2 separate regions of the Homo sapiens genome follow, and region 1 is linked to region 2. The links come from fine-mapping of genetic effects on gene expression. Tissue or cell type: whole blood. Region 2 holds a variant in brackets; the other region holds the start of a gene. All regions are shown on one strand. Distances are between the middles of the regions.

The links. PIP is the estimated chance that this variant, and not a neighbour inherited with it, causes the effect.
Region 1: it holds the start of ASB2, and the variant in region 2 is fine-mapped to the expression of ASB2 in whole blood (TOPMed, PIP 0.94).

Annotation. Positions count from the first base shown.
Region 1 is chr14:93,974,912-93,978,911 of GRCh38, forward strand. It overlaps ASB2 (ankyrin repeat and SOCS box containing 2), which reads right to left and starts at 1,659. Exons shown (of 10, transcript NM_001202429.2): 1 at 1,523-1,659. It overlaps LOC107984663 (a long non-coding RNA gene), which reads right to left. Exons shown (of 4, transcript XR_001750861.2): 4 at 2,514-4,000. RefSeq lists an enhancer at 140-711.
Region 2 is chr14:93,951,692-93,955,691 of GRCh38, forward strand. It overlaps ASB2 (ankyrin repeat and SOCS box containing 2), which reads right to left. Exons shown (of 10, transcript NM_001202429.2): 4 at 2,626-2,792; 5 at 1,661-1,816. Among named protein-coding and RNA genes, the nearest start is that of MIR4506, 5.4 kb to the left of the region's middle. RefSeq lists enhancers at 2,207-3,184, 3,295-4,000. The variant T/C (reference allele first, on the strand shown) is at 2,073.

The sequences.
Region 1 (4,000 bases), 23 kb after region 2:
CCCCCGCCACCACAAGGCACTCATGACCCGGCCTGTTTGTGCAAGAACAGATGATGCAAACCAGCATGGCACCCAGCGGAGCTGCTGCCAGCTTCTTGGGGACGCTGTGCAGCACATGGGCCTGCCACCAGCTGTCAGGACCCGTCCAACTGTTTTGGAAGTGCCTCGAGCATCTGCCACTGTCTGCCTCATGGTGCTTCTGCCCAGGCAGAGGTCAGGGCTGTGGCGGGGGTGCTGGCCCCAGCTGGCTCTGCCTGCGTCCCTCTGAGCCCCCTCAAGCCCTCGCCTCACGAAACAAGCTTATCTTCAGAAGAGCATTCCTGTCCTGTGCAGGGGCTCAGCTTCTGCCCTGCTTCAGGCCTTCCTCATTTACCTGCCCTCCCTAGGAGTCACCAGCCTCCTTGCCTCCTCATTCCAGTGCATACCCCTGGCTTCCCGAAGAGCCACCGAAGCCAAATCTCACATCCTCCAAGGGGAATGGGCCACTGAAATGAAAATGATTCTCCACCTAGAGGCACCAGAAACCAAGTCATGTTTCTGGGCCTCCACCTCTGGGGCCTGAGATGTGAACACACGGGTGGGAGTGTAGGTGCCTGGCTGTGTCCCTTCATATCCCAGATGCTCAATGCATGTGGCTATGTGCATGCCGTCCTCTGCTCAAAAACTCTCAGAAAGTGTTCCAACTTCTTGCTTGGCCTGGAAGGATGTGCCTCTCCCTCTGGCCTCCCCTTCTAGCCTCACCCCCATTTTTCACATGCAGAACCCTTTGCCAGAGCCACATTTCACTTTCCATCATCACCCCAGGTCCCTTGACTTCCCTGCCTTTGCCCAAGCTGCTCCTCCACCTGGAGGTCTCTGTTTCCACCCTGAGGCATCCCACCCATCCTTTCAAAGGCCATGGCCTCCTTAAATGTGTCATGCATATGCGTGTGCACACACATGCATGGTATTCTTGCATCCCTGCATTCCACAGCTTTGTTGGATCTCACATAAATAACATTCCTCCATTTCCTCTCCTAATCCCCAAACAGTTGAAAGCAGAGCACATGGCACCTTGGCTGCTATGGTCTCCCACAATACCGTGCATGCCTAGGCACTCTGCAACAGCTACATTAAATTAACTCCCACTCATGAAAACCTCTATCTGTGCGCCTGGCCTGAAAGCATTTCTGAAAGTCACTTGTCTGACACAGATACCGCCCAAGACCTACAGACCCAACAATAGCATCATTGATAAGTCCTTTTGCATTTCCATTTTTAGAAGTGCACAGCAGAGTGATATTCTGAGCCAGAGTCCTCCAGAAGAATGGGTAAGTACATGCAAATTGCTGAGTCTCTGTTCATTGCATCCAAAACGAAAGTCACCAGCGTGCTGTATAACTCAAGAAAATACGAGAGAGAGGGAAAAGCAACATCACAGTTTGACTACAAGCGGTTTCCAGTAAGTACTGCAGCCGAAAATCCCCACCAGCCAAAGAATCTTTTGCAAGATCTGTATAAGAAAGTTGAAAGCATGCATTACCTGTTAGGCTCTGAAACAAGGGTACAATTCAGGGGTAATACAAAGGATTTTCTTGAAAGTGTCTTAATTCAGAACATGCTCCCCGAGTTTTCCTTCTGCCCTGGCCCCAAGCTTCTGGCTGCTCTGCCAGGCAGTTCTGAAACGCTGTCCTTTGAAGCAGGGAGTTTATTTTGGGGCCACCGCATGACCAACGTTGACAAGCCAAACTATAAGATGTTATACATCTCAGATTTCCTGTTTGGAGGTTGCACTGAGGAAGCTGCAATCCTGCCTTCCGTTCCTCCGGGTGCATCGAATACAGACTCTCACTTCAGAGAGGATCCCGGAGCTTTGGCCCTCACGTGATGTCATCATTTGTGATCCTTGACATGGAGGCCATATATGGGTATGTTTCTGGAACTACCCAGGGGAGAGCCAGACAGGAGAGAGATGCAGTGGGTCAGAGACAGAGGCAGGGAACGAGGACGAGGAGACGCATAGTTGGGAGACAAAGAGTGAGGAGCAAGGGAGGAGGAAGAAAGGGGAAGAGGAGAAGTAAAGGCAACAAAGGAGGGAAGGCAAGACAGCAGGAAGGAAGAGGATGGAGTGAAAGAGAAGGGAAGAAGGGGAGAGAGGAGATGAAGGAGTTGACGTAAAAGGGCTTTGGAGAAATCAAGGTTTGGTGCTGAGCTTGTGGCAGCATTTGGGGATAGCAGGTGTCTGGCTGCTGGATACTGTGGGGTGGGGCTGGGGATACAAAGGGCCAGGGTACAAATGAGCCAACAAACAAACACAGAGGCATGCGGGCAAGCCCTGGGCAGAGATATACAACAGAAGAGAGCCCTTCCTCCTGGTCTAGGGAAGAACGTCCCATTTCTGGAATAGGTCAAATGTCAAAGACAACACATACACAGCCACATGCACTGAGCATCCGGGATGTGACAGGACATGGCCAGGCACCTACTCTCCCACCCGTGTGTTCACATCTCATGCCTCAGAGTTAGGGGTCCAGAAACATGACTTGGTCTGTTCCTCTAAGGGGAGAATCATTTTTGTTTCAGTGGCCCATTCCCCTTGGAGGATGTGGATTTATGATGGCCACAGCATGATTTCTCACTGATTCAAACTCAGGAAACCTCAGGATGCCTTTACACGCACTTCGAATATTCCACAAGGAAATACATCTCAGTATACAAGGTGCCACGGGGTTGAGTCAAGGTTCTGGAGGTCTGACTGGTGCTAAAGATGGGAAGGACACCAGTGGTCCCCAGGCAGTCCCCCAGCTTCCCTGGTACCTGCCAAATTGCTCATCACCCCAGCTGGGTCAGTCTTCCCAGGCCACTGTGGCTGGGTGGCCCTCAAAGTTAGCTCAAGTTCAGCCCCTTCCAGACCCATGTGCTATGGAGGGAGTGTAGGAGAAGGGCAGAGAAGGGGCTGTCAGATTCTTTTTACTTTTTGGAGACTCTGCTACCCAGTAGGATGTTCCCCGAGAGACGTCTCTGTGGGACGGCTCCCCGAGGCCGGGCTGCTTTCCTGGGCTCCTTGCTGGAGGCAAAACACAGGTTCCTCTACTTCCTGCCCACCACCTGCCCCTTCCCAATCTGACCTGGAAGGTGGGCTGTGGCCAGGCCAGGCCCCTCCTAGGTTGCCCTCTGCCTCATGGGCATGCACACATGCACACACACACACACACATACACACCCCAAACTCCATCCAAGATGTGTCTATTCCTTCCCTCCCCTTGAATATGGGGTGGCCTAGTGATGGACTTAACAATAGAATGCAGTGGAAATGATGTCCTGAGACTTCCAAGGCTAGGTCATGAGATGCTTTGTAGCTGCCATGTTGTGAGGAAGTCCAAGCAAGCAACACCCAGGGCCCCCAGAGCATCTAGCACCAGGCAGAGGGGTGAAGACACCCTCTCGGAGGTGGATCCTTCACCTGCAGCTGCCACAGCTAATGCCACGTGGAGCAGAGACAAACCACCCACAACTTCCTGACCCATAAACCACAAGCTATGATAAAAGGATTGTTTCGTGCCACTGGGGATTGAGGTAGTTTGATATGTAGTAATAATCAACCCAGACACTCACCAAATATTCACTGCGGTCTCAGCTGCATGCTCCTCAGCTCTCGTGTGCTACCCGTGAACTTTTTTCTGACTTTCCACTTGTCTTTGTTTCCATTTAAAAGAAGAAAAACAGATTCAAACTAAATTTTTTTTTACCTCACTCTTTACAAAAGAATGTAGTCCCAAGTCATTTCCCAGTTCTTGGGTTTATCAGACCAGAAGCTCCTTTTGGCTGAGATTCTGTCTTACAGGGGAATTGTGGTCCCTCTAACTGGAGGGACTCTTGGCTATCCTGGTGTTCAGAGCCCTCATTTACTAGTTCAGGCCCCAAGAGGTTCTGTGCCTTCTCTGAGATCACCTGGCAATTTGGGGGCAGAATAATTCACACATTGAAAGCCATGCCAGTGGGAACCATGCCCCATGGGATC
Region 2 (4,000 bases):
GGATGTCCCTATCATTTCCCCTTCCAGTGGTACCTGCTTCAGTCCTCCACATTACCAAGGCTGGAAGAATCTTTCTAGATGAGGAGTCAGCGGTGTCATAATCCTGCTGAACTTCCCCCTGCTCCAGCAAAGGCTACTAATTTAGTTCAGGGTAAAATGCACGTTGTGAGTACAGCTCCTCAAGTCTTTCTTGACCTGCTCTAACCTCCTTTATAAGCCTCATCTCTCTCTAGACCCCAAACGTGCCCTTGGCTCTGGCCCCAGAGTTCTCACCAGGAGCTGCAGGTGGTATTGGAGTCACCTGGGCACTTTTCCAAATTAACCAGCCCTGGAAGCTTCTCTGTGTCCGTGTCAGTGGGAGGAGGAGTGAGGAATGGGTCAGGGAGACTGGCAGCAGGGGGAGGAGGGCTGCCTGTGTACTGTTTCAAATAGAACCATAGGCCAAGCCTTCTACCTCTCTAAGCCTTGACTTTCTCATCTGTAAAATGGAGAGAATAAAACCTTCTTGAGCAGATGCTATGGGAGTGAGACTGTGTGTAAGGCATGAGCATAGTGCTTGGCACATAGTAGGTGTGCTTGCAAGACCAGGGCCAAGCTCTGGCTGTGGGCTGCCCAGCTTCCTGGGCACTCCCTTTGGACAGCTGAGGTTCCAGGTGATAGCCATGGCGCCCTGGCAGGCACGGATTCCAGGGAAGACACTTCCATGGTGGGTCTGCAGCGGATCCAGTGACCTACTACTCAGTTCCTGCTGCCCAAGCTGTTCCAAGCACTGGATAGACACATGGGAAATCAGGGATATCTGTAATTTTTCCAAGTACAAAGGCCTGATCATTTGTAAGACCCCAGCTGATTGCTTCAGCATGTAGGCATGGACAGGATGCTTTAGAATGTAGTAGTTGAGGGCAGTGTGACATCCACCTCCCTGAGTTTAAACCACTGGGGTACCCCTTGCAAGCTGTGTGATCCTGGGCGACCCATTTAATGTCTTGGTGCCTTAGGTCCTCATATGTGAAAGGGGATACCAGCAGTGCCTACTTCATGTGCAGATGGACATGAGGGGTCCATAAGAGAACGGTGCCTGGCACATACTAAACACTCAATCAATGCTAGCTATTGTGATTATTTAGACTTTGACTCTGGGTACTGCTAGGGCAGCCAACAAATGTCCATGGATGATGTACTGAGTAAGCCAGGAGGCCTTGTTTTTCTTAAACAAATGTCCCAGAGGTACATGCTCTCGCATACCTTCATGCCTTTGCCTGTGCGGTTCCCGCTGCTTGGCCAGCAGGTGATTCCTCCTCTGTGGTTCAGCTCAGGCACCCCTCCTCTGGGTGCCCCTCCCCCATGCTCCCACAATGCCTCCTGCCAAGCCCTTTCCTGCTCTCTGTGTGTGGGTGCCTACAGGGCTGGGAGGGTGCACAGGTTGGACTATAGCTTTTCAGCTCCAAGCCCTCAGTGTCCCTCAGCATCCTGGCCCATGGGATGCAGTTGGAAAATGTTGGTAAAATACATGCAGGAATGAATGATTCAGTTACATAAATTGTGCATTTGAGCAGGGCCACGTTGGGGGTTATGCACTTAACGGGAGCAACATTCCCTGTTGCTCACCCAGCTTCTGGATTCTTCCGCAGGAAAGCTCACTCCGGGGTGGGGACCTCACCTTTGTAGAGCGGTGTCTCTCGGGATTTGTTGGAGATGTCCGGCTCTGCCCCTGCTTGGAGCAGTGACAGGAGACAGTCCAGGTGGCCCCTGCACGTTGCCAAGTAAACGGCTGTTTCCTCCTGCAGGGTGCGCTGGTCGATGGTCCCTGGGTACGCTAGGGAGGGCCCACCGGGAAATTCATGTAGGAGAAAGATACTCAGCCCCGCAACACAGAGGCTTTCCCGATTGCCTCCCAATTTCAAGAACAATGTATGACATCCTCTGAAATTTACCAACTACAGACTGCATTCATCTGGCCCTTTCACAGGGCCATTTTAGCTTCCTGGTCGTACACGTCCAAGCTCAGATGCCACGTCCTCTGAGAAGCCTTCCCTAATGGAGCCCCTCCCTCTTCGAATACTCCTGTCCTT[T/C]CCTCGAACTCACACCAGCCATTGCTGGAAACCCACTGTTACATGCCATGGTTTCTTGGAGTGTCGGGGGCCGTGTGGGGTCTGTGCTGCTTCAGGGCAGAGGTGACACCTGCCTGCAGGAGTTGCCCTTCTGAACCTGGCTCAGTAGGAAGACAGGGCTCAGAGAGGAGGCACGGCTGTCCCGCGGTCCCACAGCAGGTGGGGGATAGCCTTGGCCGGGCACAGGCACAGCTGCAGTATTTTTCACACCAAATCAGCCCCTGGGACATTCTGGAACAAGTTGGCAGTGGTTCTTCTAAAAGTCAGCCCTCCCTCATTCCTTTTCTAGGAATTAGGCTCTCCTGTCCTTGGAGGCCTGGAGAGGTGGCAGCAGGGGGTGGGGACAACTCATTTCCCCTCTCGTAACTCCATGACTAACTGACAAATGAAAGTGACAGCCTTGCCTGCCCTTCTCCCAAGATGATTGTGGGCAAAGAACATGAAGCCCCAGGAGCGGCAGCCCTTCCCCTAGTCCCTTTCCCACCTCTTGCCACCGTCAGAGCCCAGCCCTCACCTCGCTGCAGGACTTTCAGGCAGCCCACCTGGCCATAGTATGCGGCCTCGTGCAGCGGCAGCCAGCCCTCCTTGTTGGGCTCTGCGAGATTCTTCCCTTCCTTGATCATGGTCTTCAAGGCCTCTTCATCGCCATCCTTGATGGCCTTTATCAAGGGGTCCGCAGGCCTGTGAGAGGAAGGAGTGGGTCAGTCCTCAAGGTCAGGCCAAGGCCAGGCCAGGGGGCCTCTCTCTCAGGAGTGCTGGCAGTGGAGTCACTCGGTCCTCGTCCCTGCTGGTTCCAGGATGAGCACTCAGCCCCCTGCAGCCCAGTGGCTGCAAGAGGACTGGGGGATCCCTCCATCTCTGTGGCTTTCCATGGCTGCCGGGAATGTTATACCAAAACCAATTCTACCAAGAGGATTCAGGCACACAATGCCAGCCTCCTAGAGGGTGGCTAACCACCCACATGTGAGGCACTTGTGATAATTAAATGCTTTCCCTGAGTATAGCACTCTAGCATTTACCAGGCACGCCCATCTCGGGGGCCCCCTCTTAACCCTGAGCATATCTCTGGGGTCTTCCAACTCCTCTCCTTGCCCTGTCGCTTATTCCTACTCCCAGTACATCCAGCTGCAGAAAAAAAATATATACTGGAAGGATTAATAAATTTGAAGCCTTCACAGTTTAAAACTTCTGAATGTCAAAAAGATTTGAGGGCTAAAGTGAAGCCGTTCCTTGCTTGGCTTGTTAAAGTCCCTTTGTTCATTCATTGCTTCCTTCCTTCCTTCATTCATTCACTGAGCTCCCTACCTCATCCTTGGAGAGTCCGTGAGAACCACGATGTCTATGCCTCTCAGATCCACTTTTGGGGAGGCTTCTGCATCAATAGTCCCATTTCCCAGATGGAGAAGGTGAGGCTGGAGGCAGGCCTCATTCCCAGGACACCCACGCCATGTTGGGCTAGGATGGGCTCTGGGCGGTCTCTGCCACCAGCCCCTGCACTCTCCCAGCCACTTCCTCCAGCGTGAGCAGCACTTCCTCCTGACTCTCAGACTCTGTGGTTATTAATGGTGTCAGAGCACAGATGCCGGTGAAGCAACAGACCCAGCAAGGACGATGGGAAACTGATCAGATAAGTCCTGAGGTCCCCATCAGCACCGTCACTGCCACCTTGACGAGTTCCACTTAGGAACAGCCAGAGCAGCCCCTGTCAGCATCAGGAAAAGCCCAGTGGGGGTATGTGCCCCCCTTTTCCTGGAGTGTCTCCAAAGGGACCCCAGCTGAAGTGGAAGGGAGGAGGGCTGGCTTTTCTCGTGGCCTTGGCGAGCAGGGCGTGGTGCAGTGTCGTGAGAACACTTTCAGGACCTGCCGCCCAGCTTGGGTCTCTCCAGCTG